Linked DNA regions of Homo sapiens. The protein of the gene in region 1 interacts with the protein of each later gene in a pairwise test. Each region holds a gene or a part of one and is shown in the gene's direction. Other genes may lie near its edges. The genes, in order: LIN28A and ZNF275.

Region 1 (10,403 bases):
AGTCCCTGTTAACTATCTCGTGGGGGAGTAGTGGGAGGCAGCACCAATTATCAGCACCCCCGCCCCCTTCCGGGAACCCCTCCGGCTTACCACGTGTCTATTACCTCTTTCCCCTGGGAAGGGGCAGGGGGCAGGGAGGTGACCCCATGTGGCAGAAACTAAGGTTGTATTGTGCTTGCCGGTGGGGGGAGGGCGAGCAGGCCGGCCAGGGAAGCACATGCCGGGCCTAAGCCGGGAGCCCAGCTCCTCCAACGTCTGAATGGAGCTCAGAAGGCGGGAGAGAGTGAGGGCAACTGGCTACTGGACCCAAGGGGCGTAAAGCCGAGAAGTCAGCCTCATCCCCTTTTTAATGCAGACCTCACCTGGCTGGTCACTAAAAACTGGGTTTGGCAGATCCCTGAAGGATCCCTGTGGGGGCTTGAAAGCTCAGGACTGGGGTCTTTGCTGTCCAGTTCCCGTGAGGAAGGAAAACCCAAAGAGCCCAGGCCTTCCTTACATTCCTGGGCCAGGCTGGGAGGGAAGTCGGTAGGTCGCAACCCCAAGTTCTCAGTTAAAGCAGGGCAGCACAGTAGGGGGTGAAATTCAGTGTCGCAGGGCAGGGGGTGAAGGGAGGCTGGCCTCTGGTCCTATTCTCCGCTTGGCATTTATGGCCCCAGACAGCCATTGATTGCTGTCTTAACATTCCTGGCCTCAAACAAGGAGCCAGAGACTTCAGGTCTCCCTCCTCCCAGGCTTCCCCTTCCTGAATATCCTAGAGGCATTCCGGTGGTCCTGGGCCACCAGCTACCCATAAAGACCATGGAAAGGAAGTTGCTTGCTGCCTATGGCCCTTCCATCTTTGGAGGTTTGGGACTGGATCTGGAAAGAAGAAATTGCTAATCCCAGATCGTGTAGGTTGACACCCAGGCCGGGCAGGGAGGGGTTACTTAAGGGAGGTTGGCTTTAGGAGGTGTGGGGGAGGGGAAAGGAGGATGTGGGGATTAAGGGTTGGAGCCTGAAGGGATGGCATTCTTTGGGGGAGGGGTAGAGAAGGGAGATGCTGGATGGACTAGTTGGAGGCAGCAGGGACGTCTTTGAGCACAGCCTTCAGTGAGGAACAAACAAGGGAAATAGACGCAGGGAGATGGGGAGCCACCACTTACTGTTGGGGCCATGGGGTCAGTGGGCTACTTGAACATCTGCCAAGAGGACCTGCAGCAGGATACTGAGCTGCCCCTTTGCAGCACCCTTATTCCCCCAACCCCCCATTAGACAGCTAGTTTCCCACTAGTGGCTTTTCTCCCTTCTCTGTCTCATTTACATATGTGAATGATAACCCACAGGAAGTAATTGTGGGAGAAAGAAGGGAATTGGCCTTTTTAGATCTATTAAATCACTTTATTACAGGAACCAGCTTTGAATGGCCCTCCTCAGCAGGGTAGCAAGCCTCCCCCACTCTCCCATTTATCTGATCACAAAGAGATTAAAATCTTTCCTGGTCTGGGGACTGGACAGCTCCCCCAACTTTGGGAGGCTGGAATAAAAGAGTCAGACCCAACGTTTTCTCATCTCCCATCCAAAGGCTGCCAGATAGGGAGGGGCTGAGGGGAATGTATCCCCTCATCTTCTGGGTTCCTTGGTGATATACATACCCCAAGGAAGGTGTTTTCTTGTTTTGTTTGTTTGTTTGTTTGAGCAAATGGGGACTTGGGCCTCAGCAGGCTTCACCTTAGGATCTAGAGCAATTGGGAAACTATTGGATGGCATAGAGCAGGCATTGAGTCTACACCATGCTGGGTCAGATGTGCTGGCTTGGAAATACTCTGGATTTTAGGCTCTTGGAACATCCAGGAACCCATAGTTGAGTAAGTTGTCAATAGGGAGCTGAGCTGGAAGAGAATTAAGAATTTGTCTCTCTAATCCCCAGCTCTTCCCATTCTACTCACAAAGCACAATGATGGGTGGAAATTCCCTGAGCCTTTACCTGGTAGCTCTGATAATGGTAGCATGCCAGAAAGGCTTGGGTCAGGGGTCCTCCAACCCCACCTTAACCGTAAGTTAGATTAGTGATTCCAGTCTTTGCACTTGTTTTTTTGTTTGTTTGTTTGTTTGTTTGTTGCTTTTTTTTTTTTTTTTTTTGAGATGGTGTTTGGCTCTTGTTGGCCAGGCTGGAGTGCAATGGCATGATCTCCACTCACCGCAACCTCCGCCTCCCAGGTTCAAGCGATTCTCCTGCCTCAGCTTCCTGAGTAGCTGGGATTACAGGCATGTGCCACCACGCTCGGCTAATTTTTTGTATTTTTAGTAAAGACGGGGTTTCTGCACGTTGGTCAGGCTGGTCTTGAACTCCTGACCTCAGATGATCCGCCCGCCTTGGCCTCCCAAAGTGCTGGGATTACAGGCATGAGCCACCACTCTTCTGCATTTGTGAAATTAGAAATGACTCTCTGGAAATCTTATGGTAAAGGAATTTAGTAAACACAGGATAAATTGTTTACTGGGGGAGGAGGAAAGTGTTCCCGAAGCAGAGGGTAAGAAATCTTTAACAAAACTTCCCATTCTTTGGCTGCTGGGGTTGGGCACCCTGGGGTTGGGGTGGGCTGGTGAGAAGGTAATTGTCCTAAGATAGCATCTACCAGAGGGAGGGGGTCAGGGAGCCCCTTTGCAAATAAAGAGGAAGGGGGAAAGGCAATTTAAAAACATTTTCTTTTCCTTTCCAAAGTTGGGGTTATTAGGATCCCAATGCCCTGTTAACTAATGTTCTTATGCTCTCTCCCAAATGCTGTAATATCCTCTTCAAGAGTAGATGAGTGGGGGGAAAAGCCCACCCCCAGCCAAAAACTAAGCAAAACGACAACAAAACAAAAAGCAAAGAGATTTCTATAACAACTCTTTTCCTTAGGTACACATCTTTAGATCTAGAAATCTGCCTGTCTCTAGAGTTAGGGAAATAGATAGCAAGCCCTTAAATTAGAGTTTCTCGACTTCAGCACTATTGACATGTTTTGAGCAGGATAATTTGTTCTGGGGAGTCTGTCCTATGTATTATAGGATGTACAGCAGTATTCCTGGTCTCTACCCACTAGAAGCCAGTTGCATCTTAGGTATGACAACCAAAAACATCTCCATACATTGTCAAATGTCCCCTTGGAGTCAAAAATCTCATCCCTGCTTGAGAAACACAGTTATATAGGAAAGCTGGAACAAGAAAGCTAAACTGTCAACTATTTTCCTGAGATTCATCAAGAATTCAAAAATCCTCATTTTGGGCCATTTTAAGAGTTTTGGCTTAACTCATGTTTCCTGTGGCTCAATTTGCAAACTCTCAAGATTTATAGAAATTTGGAAATAAGAAAAGTTCCCTGCTTTCCCATAGCTCCTCAGGACCCAGATATGTTTCAATCTCAAATATGTTTAAATTGGCTTTCTGGCTAAAATGCTATATTAGAAGACTTGGAGTCAAAAGCCCAGATTTGACCAAGGGACCAAGTTGGGTTAGGAGAAAAGGTTTTCAATACCTAGACAACTGCTGAAATTGCCCTGTAGCCAGGTGGCCTTCTTTTTCTAAAAGCCATGAGTGAGGAGGTGGTAAGAGCAACTTTATTCAGGGTCTAGGTTAGGACTGCTGGGTTTGGTGTTAGGGTTGCGGGGGCGGGTGGGGAAATATACGGAATCTTTCCTCCTGGTTTGTAACACTGCACCTCTGATTACTCACCTCATGTCTAGTTATTGAGGTACTGGTCTTATACCCTTCTCTATGTAACCCATAAGCTCTTTGAAGGGAGGAACTTAGCTGCCTGGTTAATTTTCTAGTATGCATTTGGTGGGCTGAGGAATGAATAAGAAAAGGGGCATCTTGAGGACCTTGGTGAATCAGAAGTACACTTAGCAGTCTGGGGTCCATGTTGGCAGAGATCTTTGTTCAGAGAAAAAGACTAGAGATACTGAGGGGTGTCAATTGTAGCTGCTCGCTTTCTGGGCTGGGCACAACATAGAATATGGCCTGGGCACAACATAGCACTATGAAAGTTTGTGGAGTGAATATGGGTAGATCACCACTCGGAGCCCAGAGAGGTTCCTCTCGTTTTTGTTGACAGAGTGGAAGCCACGGATTTAGTGGTCATCCATGAGTTATTTCTGTCTTAATAAGAAAAGGCAGCTTAAAAATAAATTGACTCGATTTTTCAGAAAGTTGGTAGAGAGGTAGGAAGGTTCATGAAGACATTGTGGAATCTTCTGGGGTCCTCTTCTTTCTGAGACATGCTTCTAGACAATGTCTTTTTTTTATTTTTATTTTTATTTTTTGAGATAGAGTCTTGCTCTGTCGCCCAGGCTGGAGTGCAGTGGCACGAACTCGGCTCACTGCAACTTCTGACTTTTGGGTTCAAGCAATTCTCCTGCCTCAGCCTCCCAAGTAGCTGGGATTACAGATGTACACCACCACACCCAGCTAATTTTAGTATTTTTAGTAGAGAAGGGTTTTCGTCATGTTGTCCAGGCTGGTCTCAAACTCCTGACCTCAAGTGATCCACCTGCCTGGGACTCCCAAAGTGCTGGGATTACAGGCATGAGCCATGATGCCCGGCGACAGTGTAAAGTAAAGGCTGTGACACCATCCTGAACAAAGCTTCAAATATGGGATGTTTCTACCCTCTGGTTGTTGACACTGCTGCCTGCCTTACAAGTGGTTTTCAGTAACATTCACCAGGGCCATTTAGTTTTTTGAACATTGCTAATCACACTCTACTGGAATTCTTGTTTTTTGGAGTAACTGCCCTAGGTAAAACTATGCCTCCTGTCTTCCTGCAGGCATGAATAGCAACCACTGGCCACATAGTCAGAGTGGGAGGTCAAAGGAGTTGGGGGAGAATACACAGTTGATACAGACTTATTTAACATGATCTCACCATCGAGGTTTTTTATTTTTTTTGAGACGGAATCTCTCTCTGTTGCCCAGGCTGGAGTGCAGTGGCGCCGTCTTAGCTCACTGCAACCTCCACCTCCCAGGTTTGAGCGATTTTCCTGCCTCAGCCACCCGAGTAGCTGGGATTAGAGGCACCTGCCACCATGCCCGGCTAATGTTTTGTATTTTTAGTAGAGATGGGGTTTCACCATGTTAGCCAGGCTGGTCTCGAACTCCTGACCTCGTGGTGATCCGCCTGCCTCGGCCTCCCAAAGTGCTGGATTTACAGGCATGAGCCACCATGACTGGCCCAGCGTGGTGTTATTTAATTTAGACAGGACTTGGCTTTTCTAAGCAGTAGAATATAAGAACTGAGTTTCTGGCCTAAAAGTCTAGGAACCTTTCATTCTTATCCCTGATCAAGCCGGTGGTTGGGTGGGGGCAGGGTGGGACGGGGAGGACAAGATGACTGCCCTAAGGAGCTGTGGAGATAAATCTACCCGAACACTTGAGTTCACAGCTCAGACCAGGTAGCGGGCCACTCAGTACCTCCTGGTATAGGCGCCCTCGGGCTTACCTTTGGGCAGACAGGCTGAGCAGCGCCATCTGGTGGAGAACTCCAGGCAGGAGCTACAGGGCCTGGCTGTGGCTGAGCAGAGGGGATCAGAGGGATTGGCTGCCTGCAGCCTTCTGTTCCAGACACCCCTTTCACCAACCTCCTTGACACACACCCTCCTTGACACACACACCATCGAATAACTGCTTCTGGGAGAACCGGTTGGTTCTCCCTTACCAAATCTTACCTCCAGGAATGAAGCTAAGTTAGGGATGTGACACCACAGGACTGAATCATTAAAATTACTTTCATCAGCTGCTTTTTTAAACGTAGCTACTAGAAAGTTTTCAATTATATATGTGACTTGCATCATAATGAATTGCACTGGGGAGAGTTAGGCCAGCTGCACTCAGCTCAGCTCTTGCCTCTTATTGCGACTTTAACCAAGGTGCTTATTAACCCCTCTGCCTCCATGTCCTCAAGCTGTAAAATGAGGGTCTTCATATCACCCCACTGCACCAGTTTGATATGAGGGTTAAATGAGTTACAACACGTAAAGTGGTTAGAATGCCACTTAGCCTACAGTAAGAATCAATTAGTAACAGTTATTTTGCATAGTACTTAGACATTCAACAAATGCTTGTGCAAGCTAAGAACCTAGAATTGAGGTAGAGACCTGCACTACAGAATCTTCCGGCTGGAATGGCCCTGGAAGAAGATCTGGAATAGCCTCTTGCGGAAGAGCCAAGAACCCCAGCTTTAATCTGCACAACTGTAGCAAGTACCCTGAAATTCTGTTGCCACTTCTGGAGAAAGGACACTTAGGTTCCTTTGTGTTGTTTTTTTTTTTTCTCTTCATACTTTTTTCTTTTATAATGTTTTCTTTTGTTTTTAACTCCACATTTCCTAAGTGACCCCTAAGGCTCATTCTATCTCTAAGCTTGCAAAGGCATAAATTGAAGCTGGGATGAGGTACTTGGTGTGGGTTGGATAGGGTAAGGCAGGCAATTACTGAGGTATTAAGAAGGGATCAGAAGGCCTAAGTACTTTAACTGGAGAGATTCCTTCCCTGTTATCAAAAAAAGAAAAAGAAATGCTTGGGGTGGGCGCGGTGGCTCACGCCTGTAATCCCAGCACTTTGGGAGGCCGAGGCGGGTAGATCATGAGGTCAGGAGATCGAGACCATCCTGGCTAACGCGGTGAAACCCCGTCTCTACTAAAAATACAAAAAATTAGCCAGGAATGGTGGCAGGAGCCTGTAGTCCCAGCTACTCGGCAGGCTGAGGCAGGAGAATGGCGTGAACCCGGGAGGCGGAGCTTGCAGTGAGCCGAGATTGTGCCACTGCACTCCGGCCTGGGCAACAGAGCCAGACTTTTTAAAAAAAAAAAAAAGAAAAAGAAATGCTGTCTGTTGTCTGATGCCACATTCCCCAACACAGTAGGCCCATGTAGGCTCCCCACAGTCCTAACTTGAAGAAATTGGGAAAGGATGATATGGGTCATGCCTTCTCTCCCCCTCCCCTTTAAAATAATTTATCTGAATCAATAATTCAGGATTGGACTGAAGAGACCCAAGGGGAGGGGGTCCTGTTTGGTTCTATCCATGAAGTGGGCAGTGCGCAAGCCAGAGAAGGGAGATGGCTGCTGATGGTGACTTTGGCAAGACTGCCTGGGGAAGGAAGAATTTTCTATATCTAGTTCTCTCCCGTGACCATAACCCCAACATAGAGAGGAAGGAAGAAACAGTTGAATGTGGGGAGGAGGGAGAGGGAGATGCAAGAGGGATCTGCTCCTTGGAACTCCAGGAATCTGACCACCAGAACCAGCCAGTGTCAACTCTTTGTTTCCTGGGGCTGGGCTCTACTGGGGGAGCTCAGGCCATGCCCCTCCCCCTAAGGTCTTTTCTTTTTGGAGGGGATGGGGAAGGGGGCGGGGCCCTGCTTTGTGTGTGGTTGGGGGTGGAATGGGGGTGGTACAAGAATTTCAGGCGCTTTTCAGATGCAGGCCCTGGGAGGCTGGCTCTGTGGGGCTGCACGCTGATTACCTATCTGATAAGAGAGGAATTCAAACTATGTGTTTTAGAAAGGGGCGGGGGAGGAGGGCAGGGAGCCACCCCTGGAGACCACCAGTTTAAATCTCTTGATTACACTGAGGTACCTGCAGGGGTGGGGGTTTACTCTGTAAAAGTCTTAGACCTCAGATCCTCCAGTGATGCAGTGAGTGACCTGAGAGGACTAGTCAATTTCTTGTTGCATGTCCCCATTTATATGATCCTCTTAAAATAAACCTATGAGGTGTCCATAGAGGAAGGTGTTACTCTCCAGTCAACTGGGGCTTAGAGAGGGGATATTCTTCTAAGTTTCTATAGCTAGTTAGGATAAAACCAGATGCTTGGCACTTAGTTCTCTCTGTTAACCCACGCCACCCAGTGTGAAGAGGTTGATAATTGCCACTCCCTGAGGATTTATGTGTAGCAGGCGAAGTGCTAACTACTTTTCATGTGTAAAACCTCACAGCACTACCATAAAATTAGTATTTACTCCATTTTATAGATGATTAAAGAAAGGAGGGAACAGGCCATCAGACTCAATCAACCCTTGTTCTTAACTATTTACCTGCTGAATCACAGCTAGAACTAGGAGTGTCCCAGCCTAAGACAAGCTGGGCAAGCAAATGAAGCTGGAATTGCTTGGGTCCAGAAGGCTCTTGGTCTGGCTCCTCTAGGACCTCCCAACTCACCCACTAATTGCATCTCTTGTCCCACCCCGCTCAATAAAAAATAAGTCAAATCTAATATAATCTTTATTTTTTGAGATGGGTTCTTGCTCTCTCACCCAGGCAGGAGTGCAGTGGCGCGATCTCAGCTCACTGCAAGCTCTGCCTCCCAGATTCAAGCGATCCTTCTACCTCAGCCTCCCAAGTAGCTGGTACCACAGGCACATGCCACCATGCTGAGCTAATTTTTGTATTATTTTGTAGAGAACAGGGTTTCGCCCTGTTGCCCAGGCTGGTCTCCAACTCCTGAGCCTCAAGCTCAGAATCCACCTGCCTCAGTCACCCAAATTGCTGGGATTACAGTTGTGAGCCACCATGCCCGACCTTACAAATCTAACTTTAAACTCAGGGTGGTTACTGTGAAACAGCGAGAGAGGTATTGCACCCGGCCTGCAATATCATCTTAAAACAAAAATTTGGCCGGGCATGGTGTGTAATCCCAGCACTTTAGGAGGCATGAGGTCAGGAGTTTGAGACCAGCCTGGCCAATAAGGTGAAACCCTGTCTCTACTAGAAATACAAAAATTAGCTGGGTGTGGTGGCGTGCGCCTGTAGTCCTAGCTTAAACCCAGAAGAATCGCTTAAACCCAGGAGGCGGAGGTTGCAGTGAGCTGAGATCGTGTCACTGCACTTCAGCATGGGCGACAGAGCAAGACTTTCTCAAAAAAAAAAAAAAAAAATTAAGTGATAAGGAATCTGTGGTTCCTTCATCTTGATGAAGAGCATGTTTCATTTAAGTTCCAGTTTGGAATATTACCCCCCAGCCACCAGCATAAAATACGAATGCTACTTACTCATGTTCCCTTGAGCCAGGACTAGGTAAGTGCACAGTGATCCCTTTTGCTTCTCCATTTTCTATGACGACTACTCCTTGTTGACATATTTGACACTGTTGTTTTACTATAATAGATGAAGCTGTAATGAAGTCTATTCTGGGTAGGGTCTGAGATGCTGTCACCTCCGCTAATGTCAAGTTGGTGGTGCAGTAAGTGGCATGATAGAATGAGCTCTGAGCTTTAAATCAGGAACTCTGGGTTCATCTGACCCTGGCTTTGCTACAGAACTAGCTGTATCAACAACTACTTTTTTTTTTTTTCTTGATGGCTGCTGGCTGTTTGCTAACTGCTTTATAAATATCAGTGTCCTTAAATTTTGGTACAAACGTGCAGTGTTCTAATAGGATTATTCCATACATATTGTTCTAAATCTTGCTTTTTGTTTTTTCTTTTAACAATATTATTTGGTGATCTTTCTCAGCTGAATGATTAAAAATCTGCCTCCTGTTTCATTAATTCATTCAAAAATGTGCTAGGCATTATTTCAGGTACCAAAATGTGGCTGTGAACAAACCAAAGACTTTACGTTGTTCTTAATGGCTGCGTGGTATTCATTATTATAGATGTACCATATTTATTCAACCATTCCCCTTCAAATACACCAGTAGGTTATTTCCAATTTTTTTAAAGCAACAATGAGATACTGAGTATATGTGTCGTGCTAAGACTTCCTACTGATAATCTACTTATATTATGTTGTGTAATTCTTTTTTCTTAGTGATTTATGGTATATTTTTGTAGTTTTACCAGTCTGATTATCTGTCTTAACTTTTCAGTATTTTTCTTAACAATGAGGTGTTTAAATCCTCTGAAATGTATTTTGCATATGTATCATACAAAGTCTGTAGGAATATGACTTCCTTTCCCAATGGATTATTAATTTTTATAGCAGCATTTATTGAATTATTTTTCTTACCTATTGATTTCTCCATATATTCTCAGATCTCTGTGATTTTCCATTTTAATCCTCTGATCCATCTGCTTGGGTTATACTGTCTTTCGGTAACATTATTTTGATATAATTTCAAACTTTAAAAAGGCTGCAAGAACAATACCCAACACTCCCACATAACCTCTACCCAGATTCATTGACTCTTAACATTTTGCCCCATTTGCTTTATCATTCTCTATCTTGCTACAGATAGTTTTTTTTTTGAAACCATAAGTTGGAGACAGTAAGCACTTTTATCTCTAAATATTTCAGTGCGTATTTCCCAAGAATGGGAATATTTATCTTTTTTTTTTTTTTCTGAGACAGGGTCTCACTCTGTCACCCAGCCTGGAGCACAGTTGTGTGATCTCTGCTCACTGCAACCTCTGCCTCCTGGGCTCAAGGGATCCTCCCACCTCAGCC
Region 2 (10,403 bases), on another chromosome or scaffold:
AACTGTCCTGCCATTATTTCTTCAACTGTATTTTTCATCCCTCCCCCCACTTTTCCTCACCTTCTCAGGTTCCAGTTATGTAGGTGTTAGACCACTTTCTCTTACCCCAGGTCATTAAGATGCTGTTTGTTTTTAAAAACTCTTTTTCTCTCTGAGCTTCATTTGAGATCATTTCTATTGCTATGTCATCAAGTTCTCTAATTTTTTTGTGTGGTATCTAATCTGCTGTTAATCACATCTAGTAAAATTTTCACTTTAAATATCATAGTTCCCACCTCCAGAAGTTCCATTTGGTTCTTTTTATATCTTCTATTTCTCTCACTATATTCCTGTTTTTCTTTTAATGCTTGTACATCATTAAACTCGCTGTTATCCTTGTCTGTGAGTCATCACTGGTCATTTCTGTGTGTTTTTATTAACTGATTATTCTCCTTGTCCTGGCCACATTTCTGTGCTTTTTGGCGTTTCAGTAACTTCTGATTGGATGTTGGGTATTATAAAGATTATATTATTGAGTGTCTGGATTTGGGGTGGTAGTTACTTGTGGATCAGTATGATCCCTTTGAGGCCTATTTTTAAGCTTTCTTTGAGACAGGTCTTTTGTAGCTTTGGCTCTAGGAATAGATCAGCCCTACTACTAAGGCCTCTGGATTCTCTGCTGCATGTCCCAGGTGATCACAGAGGACTCTCTATACTGGTTGATCAGACCTTGAATGTCTCCCTACCTTTGTGTGTCCTGAGAATTGTTCAGCTTACAGCTTCCTGGTCACCCTTTTCCTGGGCTTTTGGAGTTTCACTCTATGCATGCATGGGCCTAGTAGTCAGGAAAGACTCAAGGGGAGGCTTATACAGATTTTTTGAAGCTCTTTTTACTGCATAACTAACTCCTTTCTGGAACTCTGCTCTGCAACTTCCAGCTGCCTCAGCTGCTCTGAATGCTGGCCTGTGTCTCCTCAACTTGGCGAAGCCACTAAGCTCTATTTGGTTCTCGCCCACCCCAACACACAGTCTCGATCTGGAAATTGCCTCCAGGCAGAGAGCTGGGGCAATGATAGGGCTCCCGTCATCTGTTTCTCTTCTCTTGGGGATCATGATTCTGTGCTTCCTGCTGTCCAGTGTCTGAAAACTTGTTTCACATATATTTTCTCCATTTTTTTCTACTTATTTATGGCACGATGTGAAATCTGTTCCTTGTTACTCCATCGCAGCCAAACGTGGAAGTTTCTGTCCATTCTTTTTCACATAACATCTTTAATTTTATATAAGAGTCTTTCTGGAGTAGCTGGATTTTGTGGGCCTTGAGCCAGTGTAAGAGCCTTCCTTTTCACTGAATTATGAGTTGAATTGAATTGAATTGTCATCACAACAGGAACTGTGTAGCTGTTTCTTAGAATTCACTGAAGTGGGAGGCCTGTGATGCACGGATGCCGGTGGTTGAATCTTTCACATATTTTGCAATTTGGAAGAAGAAGATAATTTGTACAAATCATTCAGCTCTTTTATTTAACAATTTAGTGTTTGAAGATCTTTTCTTTGAGGCTTATTTTTCCAGCTGTTTTGTTCCACTTTTCATTTGGGTTGAACACGTTAGAGAACTGCTGTCATGTGTACCTGTCTTGCTGTCACCGGGCTCCTTGTGTCAGTGGGCTGTGGCTTTTAAGGGCCTCACTGCTGGTCTAGAAGCCCCCATTCCTGCTCTCTTCCCTCCAGCATCTTCATCCGGTTTTTTGTTGCCTCTACAAAGTTGGAAAGGGTCTCTCATTTCCTGGTTATTTCTTCTGATGATCTTGGTGTGCCTCCTTCCTGTGCAGCATCAGCATGGACTTCTAGGCTTGCCAGTCTCCCTGCCCTTGGCTTTCTGTCTAGGTCTGTCTTCTCCTAGCTGTGCCTGGGCTGGCATCTGCTGGTCTTGTCTTGGCTCCCTCTGGCCTGCCTCTGTTCATTCTTTGCCAGGCTACTTTCCCCATTGTTCAAGATGTGTTTTCTCAGGCATCTCCGTGCCCTGGCTTGTCATTCAGCCAGCATGTGAGAGAAGACTCAACAAGATCAGAAACCAAGGAAGAAGAAATCACCAGTCTCTTCCCAGGGGATCCAGGGACAGGGCTGTCGTCACTCATGGCCTTTTTCACTTTCTTTAGTTCCACCTACTCCCCAAGGTCTTACCCTCCCCAGGATGGAGCCCCAGGAAACCAGGTCCTGGCAGTCCCTCTTGAGATGCCAGAGGCCTAGGTGAGCTGTGCTTCCCTCTGCCTTGCTTGGGATTCTCTCACCGCTCCCTGAATCTGGCCTCAGCCTCTGTCTCTTGCCCCAGCATGACACACGGCAGAGTATGAACCCCAGCTGCTGCCTTCCTACCCTCCCTCTGCTTCTCTTCTGGAGGCTGCCAAGGATTGGATGTCCACTGGGCTTGGAGTTCCAATCATCCAGGTGGGGAAGCTGAGTTTCCATCCAGGAAAGTGATTGAATGGAGGTCCCTTGGAAAGACGAGAGGCCAGGTCCATGGCCCAGGGATCCTAGTGCTTGATCAGGTTCTCTTTTCAGGACTTCTTGGAGCTGTGGTTAGGCCTCCATGTTAGCAACAGACACCCACTCCAGACCCTCACCTCTTGACCCTGGCATTACTGGCGCTGCCCCTGCCTCATTCTAAAATAGATGGAAAGACTGATGAGCCCTGGGAATTCTTTCAGGATTTGGTGACATTTGATGATGTGGCATGGTACCTCACCACAAGGGAGTGGTTTAAGCTGGACCCTGAACAGAGGGCACTGGAATATTATGGGAACGTGACCTCTGTGGGTAAGGATGTCCCAGCCCTTCCTCAAATTCACCACCTTCTTGGAGTGGGGCAGGGGACACATGGCTACCCCCACAGAAGCTCACCTTCTCCCTGGGTTGTGGGGAAACACAATGGGTCTGCCACACCTGATATGTCAGAGTAGTATGAGCTCCCCCAACTCCTCTTGGCATGGAAAGAACCCCTCTCAGTCTTTTACTGGGAAAGAAATTAGAACACTGCCACTGTAATGTAGAATGCCCTTTTCATTTTAATGCACAAATTATGCAAATTGCATGGCCATTTGGTTTGAGTTTATTTGTGAGAAAGGTTGACGTGATCAAGATCTTGTTCACCCATTAGGGGTCTGCATGTGTGCAGTGGGGAGGAGGTTTTAGGAGGAGAGACGTTGGGAGTCAGATTTGGGAGCTGTCGAAGTCCACGTGTCTGGGAAGAGCATGAAGTTAAATGTGTGAGCTCTGAGTGGGTGGACAGAGAGAAGACAGGGTGAAGATCACCTCCTCAGGGTGGCCACTTGATACTCCACAGAGCCTCCCCAAGGTGGGCCCAGAGGCTGCCTTCCTCAAGCTCCTGGAAGGAGCCTGACCTTGGGAAACACCTTTGAACTGAATGAATGACTTGCCTAAAGCCTGGTCTTTGAAGATTGAAGGGGGTTCCCCTTCAAAGGCCTTGCCTATGTTCCTCCACTATTCTCATGTCATCTCTGGCTGTTGCCATAACCAATCTCCTTTCCCATGAGCAGGCGTTCCTGTTTTAAATCCTGCCTTGGTCCCTCACCTGGCACAAGGACAAGTGCTACTGGTGTCAGACCCATCGCCCAACACTGATCCTGCTAAGTACTCTGGTGAGTGAAAAAGAAATGTGAGGAAATTGGGGGAGACCCAACCAAGCTGCTATGGGGCATGGGTTAGGGTTGGAGAGCCCAGCTGAGCTGTTAGGCTTCAGGTTAGGGTTGGGGGTCCCAGCTGAGCTCTTGGAGTTGAGGTTAGGGTTTGGGGGCCCTGCTGAGCTCTTGGGCTTGAGGTTAGGGTTGAGAGAAACAGCTGATCTCTCAGGGGTTTGGGTTAGGGTTGGGGGCCCAGCTGAGCTCTTGGGGTTGAGGTTAGGGTTGAGAGGATCAGCTGGCCTCTTGGAGGTTTTGAGTTAGAGTTGGGGGGTTCCAGCTGAGCTCTTGGGTTCGGGTTAGGGTTGAGGGACCCAGCTGAGCTCTTGGGGTTGAGGTTAGGGTTAGGGGGTCCAGCTGAACTTCTGAGGTTGAGGTTACGAGTAGAGGGGCCCATTTGGGCTCCTGGGGTTGAGGTTAGGATTGAGAGGATCAGCTGGGCTCTCTGGGCATTCAGGTTAAAGTTAGGACCCCAGCTGAGCTCTTGGGGTTGAGGTTAAGTTTGGGAGCCCTGCTGAGTTCTTGGGGTTGAAGTTAGGGTTGGGGGGCCCAGCTGAGCTCTTGGAGTTGAAGTTAAGGTTGGGAGGGCTCAGCTGAGCTTTTGGGGTTCTAGTTAGTGTTTGGGGCCCCAGCTGAGCTCTTGACGGTGAGGTTAGGGTTGAGAGGATCAGCAGGGCCCTTTGGAGATTCGGGTTATGTTTGGAGATCCCAGCTGAGCTCTTGGAGTTACAGTTAGGGTTGGGGGTCCCAGCTGAGCTTTTGGAGTTCTAGTTAGGGTTTGGGGCCCCAGCTGAGCTCTTGATGGTGAGGTTAGGTTGAGGATCAGCAGGGCCCTTTGGAGATTCAAGTTATGTTTGGGGATCCCAGCTGAGCTCTTGGGGTTGAGGTTAGGGTTGGGGGACCCAGCTGAGCCTTTGGGGACGTGTGTGGCTGCTCTCTGGTCACAGAAGGGGTGACCTCCTCAGCACCACTGTGGTAGAGAGTGTCCAGAATGAGGTCCCTCTGCCCCTGGCTTCTGCAGTCCTTGCTTCTGGTGGCTTCCGGGCCCAGGCCCCGTGCTCAGTGGCTGTCTCAGAAAGAAAAAGATTCTTGACAAAGGAGAGGCCCTTCCCTCCTTCATCCTCTGCAGACTACACTGCCTTGTGTTTATCGTTTCAGAAAGCACCTCCGCGACCCGACACCAGATGAAGGGGGAAGATGCCCAGCCACAGGAGATGGCGTCCACAAGCTTCCCAAGGGCCAGTGGTCCCAGTCCTGAATTCAGACAGCACGGGGACTCTGACGGGAAGAGAGGGAGCCCACAGAATCTGCCCATAGAACATCATTTTGCTTGTAAAGAGTGTGGGGACACCTTTCGGCTTAAAGTCCTGCTTGTCCAGCACCAGAGAGTCCACAGTGAGGAGAAGGGCTGGGAATGTGGCGACTGCGGGAAGGTCTTTAGGGGGGTGGCGGAGTTTAATGAGCACAGGAAAAGCCACGTAGCTGCGGAGCCCCAGCCCGGCCCCAGTAGGGCCCTGGAGAATGCCGCGGAGAAGAGGGAGCAGATGGAGAGGGAGGCAAAGCCCTTCGAGTGCGAGGAGTGCGGAAAACGGTTTAAGAAGAATGCAGGCCTGAGTCAGCATCTGAGGGTCCACAGCAGAGAGAAGCCCTTTGATTGCGAGGAATGCGGGCGGTCGTTCAAAGTCAACACCCACCTCTTCCGACATCAGAAACTTCACACTTCGGAAAAGCCTTTCGCCTGCAAGGCGTGCAGCAGGGATTTCCTGGATCGCCAGGAGCTTCTCAAGCACCAGCGCATGCACACTGGCCACCTGCCCTTCGACTGCGACGACTGCGGCAAGTCCTTCCGAGGGGTCAACGGGCTGGCCGAGCACCAGCGCATCCACAGTGGGGCCAAGCCATACGGGTGTCCCCACTGCGGCAAGCTCTTCCGAAGGAGCTCGGAGCTCACCAAGCACCGGCGGATCCACACGGGCGAGAAGCCCTACGCCTGCGGCCAGTGCGGCAAGGCCTTCCGCCAGAGCTCCAGCCTCCTGGAGCACGCACGCATCCACAGTGGCGAGCGGCCCTACGCATGCGGCGAGTGTGGCAAGGCCTTCCGTGGGCCCTCTGACCTCATCAAGCACCGGCGCATCCACAGCGGACTGAAACCCTATGAGTGCGACAAATGCGGCAAGGCCTTCCGCCGGAGCTCCGGCCTCAGTCGCCACCGGCGGATCCACAGTGGGGCGCGGCGCTGCGAATGCAGCCAGTGTGGCCGCGTGTTCAAGAGGCGCTCGGCACTGCAGAAGCATCAGCCAACCCACCACGAGTAGAAACGCCCTGTGGTCCCGCGGGACAGGGACGGAGTCCCCAGAGGGGATGGCAGAGTCAAAGGAGATGAACAGTTTTGTAGCGCTTATATATTTTGTCTTCCAAAAGGTTGAGACCGATTTATACTGCCACCAGCAATTTATAAGTGTTACGTTATGCCCATCAAGAGTAGCTTGTACCATTTAACTTAGTTTGGCTAGTTTAACTGGTAGGAAGTACCATCAAGGTATTTCAGTCCACATGCCTTGAATCCAAGAATGAGAGAGGACAAATCTGGATGTGGGGTAGGGAGGGGCTTAGAGGTCATCAACTCCAAGCTCCCCCCGCCCCAGAGAAACACACAGAGCTGTTCCACGATGGCGTCCTCATAATGTGATCCCAGCTTTCCTGAAGAGAACGTTGCCCTCATGATTTTTGGCCTACTTGAATTTATAAATTTTTAGGGATGTAAATAGAACACTCAAATGTCTTAAAATATTTAATTTATTAATTTAGTTATACATACATACTGTAAATCACATATTATATAAAATAATATATTAATTTAGAAAATACCCCATTTTTGCCACCCTCCCTTTCACGAAATCATTTTACTCTGACTCCTCACCGTCTTCACCAACATGGGAACCCTGTTTGAGTCATCAGACAGTTTCAAGACACACCCAGTCACTTCCATCCGAGCTCTGCACGGTCGCTCAGTGACGATCCCTTCATGAGGCTCTCATTAGAAATTTTCTCCCAAGCCATAAGACCATATTTGCAGAACATTAGGACGATTTCTCTTGTCGTTTTTTAATCTGTCCTGTGACTGTACAATATAACCACTTAAGGTCATACTTTTTCAAACAACCTTTAAACGTCTTTTCTTTTAAAGCACCCAAAATGTCATTGTGAGGCCAAACGCCTAGTAACAGTTACTGAATCTGGGTTAAATGTCGGTATCTTTTTTTCTTAAACCATTTCAATTTGGTGTCCCCTATACATATCCAAAACTAGCATCGATTGGGGTTGTTTTGAACTAATGGGTCTTGTCCTCAAGCAGCACTATTTTGTTCAAAATAAAATAGTTGAGAGCATGCCCCTAAGAAGAGATACATCTCAAGGACTCAAGTGCAGGGTGACGCCTCCTTTTGGAAATGAGCCTCTCCTGGTATCAGGCCTAGATGGTACTTCTCCAGCCTTCCGTTTCTTGTTCTATAAAACAGGGGTGATCACAGCACCTACCTCCGAAGGTTATCACGAGGACTGCCATCGTGGCTGCAGAGTGCCAGGACCACCGGCCTGGTATGGAGGTACACACTCAGTGAAGGCCATCTGCTGTCATTGTCATTGTCATAGTTATTGCCGTCATTCTGTGGCTTGTCAATTCCAGAACTGGGGATAGACCCCAGGCCTCCTGACCACCAGTCTCATCTTTCTCTTATGCGATGACTTAAATGGTGTTTCTGTTTTTTGCATGCAAATGGTCCGTTCATCTCCTTTGACTAGTTATCAACTTACCTTCGGATATATTAACTTTATGTAGCAGTTCTTTCTATATTGATGGTGATGTTCTCTTTTCCAATTTTATTGCTTTGCTTTTTGTAGCAGTTTTATTACGTTTTTGTTGTGAAAGCTTTTAATTTTTACATATCCAAGCATTCATTTTTTGTCCACTCAGTCATAACTTTCATTGCTTCTGTAGCTAGATATGATGACATTTTCTCTAGAATTTTAATTACAAACAAAAAGCTGCAACCCCAGCCCATCAGAAGGTGAGTACACCAGGTGGGCAGGCTGGATGGAAATGGGCCAGAGAAGCAGGCTCTTTCCTCATCCGAGATGCGGACTCCCTGTCTATCTGTGGGCACCACTTGACTATCCAACCTGACCACTGCGGCACACTGGAGATGCTCCCATCATAGATTAGCCAGAACTCTGTGACTGCTCATCATTATAGACCCCGCCAGCAGCAGTGGGGCTTGGCCTCACCTAGATCAATGGAGTGGTCCAAACTTGGTCTGGGAGCAAGCAGCCCAGCCATCCTTTGAGCTCCTGGGAGCCTTGGCAATGCTCCGAGTGGATTCAGTGACTGAGCAGCAGATTCACCCAAGAAACATCTCCTTGGACACAAGAAGACTTGCCTAGACCACATCCTCCTTTCAGCCGGTGACTCTAGAACTAGAAAGAGATTGGTTCATAGGCTTCTGCTGTGGGCAGCTAGGGGAAAATTCACCCATGTGTTCTGGCATCACTTCCTATAGCCACACCTAAGTGAGGGCAACAGAGCAGAGGCTCGGAGAGGAACCCTGCCCCTCCGATGGCTTGTGCGTTATGCTGATAGAAGCTGGCAGCACTGCCCTGGGCTATGATTTGCAACAGCCATGCCCAGGAGGAGCACTAAAGCAAAGGTTTGGAGGGCAGTGGAACCCTTCTGAAAGCCTGTGTGGCATAGAAGTAGAAGCTGGTCCTCCTGGGTCTGAGCTACCATTTCCAGTGGGCTCCCCCAAGAGGAACAGCAGCAAGGGCTAGCGAGGAACCTGCCCCTCCAGTGGCCCACAGAAGCCACAGATAGAAGCCAGCCCCACCAGGGCTGTGCTGTGACTTCCCAGCAGCTGTGGCTGGGGACAGGGACACTAGGAGGGCCTGGCAAGGAAGTGTGCCCTTCTCGTGGGCCCACCAAGGCTGAGGCAGAGCTTCCTAGCAGACACAACTTGGAAGGGCTTCTCAGGCACCCATCCTGACCCCCAGGCTGGAGAGGAGCCAAAAGCACTTGTTACATAGTGATTCCTTTTGCCCTGTGGGCCTCAGTTCTTGCAGTAGTTGTGAATCTGTGTCTGAAATCACTACTTTCTTCTCGGATCCTTTTTCTCTTTTCGAGTTGTTAGGATGTGTTTTGTACAGCTGTCATTTGATAAAGAAGGTTGACCTCTACCAGGGGCAAGTCTGGCACCTTTACCTAGAAGTACTCTGCCATGTCTTGCCCGTTCATTTATCGTTTGTTGGGTTTCATGAGGGATCCCATTGAAGTAGATCCCTTTTATGAAGGGATCCCATTGAATGCAGCATTAACTCAGAACGTAGCATAAAGTCGTCACTGCTCCCAGCTGGGACGTGGTGTCTTGGCATCCCTTCCTGCCGTCCTTGACTCTTTCCCATCTTCAGTTCTATAATTTTCTCCCAAACAAATGCTCTTTTAGAGTTAACACTAAAGATCTGGTCTTTGCCGTCAAGGTTGACAGAACAGCTGTTCATGGTGTTTGCGGTGAAACCCGTGTTCTCTTTCAATGCAGTCTGTGGCTTTAACGTGTGTCCTGTAATTTCGCCAAGATCATTTCTTGCCTCTGGTAACTTGGGGGTGGATTTCCTTGGGCTCTCTAGGTGTACTGCTATGTCAGATGCAAAATGTCACCCAGCTTCCTGTCACATATCCTTGTCTGTGCATTCATGCATCTACCTCATTCCGGTTTTCTTTCTAATCTCATGTATTCCTGTTGTGAGGAAATGTGTTCTTTTCCCGATCCTTTTGTAGTTCATACACATGACAATTGGGTTTCCACGCACGTGCATGAGATGTTCCTCCTTCAAACCTTGTTACTATGTCAGCACATTAACTGCCTGGCATGGAAAAAGAAAAAAAAAAAAGAAATATGTTCTTTTCCTACCATTTGAAAAAAATCCTCCATTGCTTTTATTAGAGTTTTGAATACTTGTGAAAATTTTCAAAAGAAAGTAATTGATTACCATTTTTGCTGCTTATTACGATGAGCTGTGTCCATTAGCTGTGTCACCCCACTCTTGCATTTCCAGAATAGTCCCTACCCAATTGCAGCGGGCATGTTTTTGAGTGGTGTTGCATTCCATGTGCTTGATTTTGTCCTAGAACTGGCACAGCGCCTGCCCTACCTGCAGCCCTGGGTTGTGGCCCTGTTGCGTACCATGTGATTTGCCACCCCGCTTCTAGGCCATATTAATTCAGCCAGAACTGAACACCTGACCCAAGGGCAGCAAGCAATCATCAGAGCATAGAGCTGACAGAACATGATGGACCACGGACACCACCAGGCCTTCCAGATCTGAAATGCAAACAAGGAAACAGAAGCTTCTAGGCATCAGAAGGTGTGGGGAGCAGCACAGTACTCAGAGGAGTGAGGAGCGTGGCGCCTGCTGGGAGGAAGGCCTGGCCATGGTATGTTCTTGGATTTCTGGCAGCAGCCCTCATTGGTCCACGTGCGTCCCCACTACAGACTCCTTGACTTGAGCCAGCTTGAGTGGGTCTCTACTCTTTTCTATTGTGTTTTGCCACTTGGCTGCTTCCTGGCCAAGTCGCACCTGACTGCATGAACACCTGTTCAAACGTGTGTTCTCTGTTCTCTAAGATGGGTGAAAGTCGATGCCTTCTAGTCTCAGTGAATTTAACCTGTGATTTTATGT

The links.
Region 2: the proteins of LIN28A (region 1) and ZNF275 interact in binary tests that used the Homo sapiens proteins (3 or more experiments, as listed by UniProt).

Annotation. Positions count from the first base shown.
Region 1 is NC_000001.11:26,411,727-26,422,129, forward strand, and holds part of LIN28A (protein lin-28 homolog A), read left to right. Parts: intron 1-10,403. UniProt on the Homo sapiens protein: RNA-binding protein that inhibits processing of pre-let-7 miRNAs and regulates translation of mRNAs that control developmental timing, pluripotency and metabolism.
Region 2 is NC_000023.11:153,341,984-153,352,386, forward strand, and holds part of ZNF275 (zinc finger protein 275), read left to right. Parts: intron 1-3,536; coding exon 3,537-3,638; intron 3,639-4,835; coding exon 4,836-5,992; 3' UTR 5,993-10,403. UniProt on the Homo sapiens protein: May be involved in transcriptional regulation.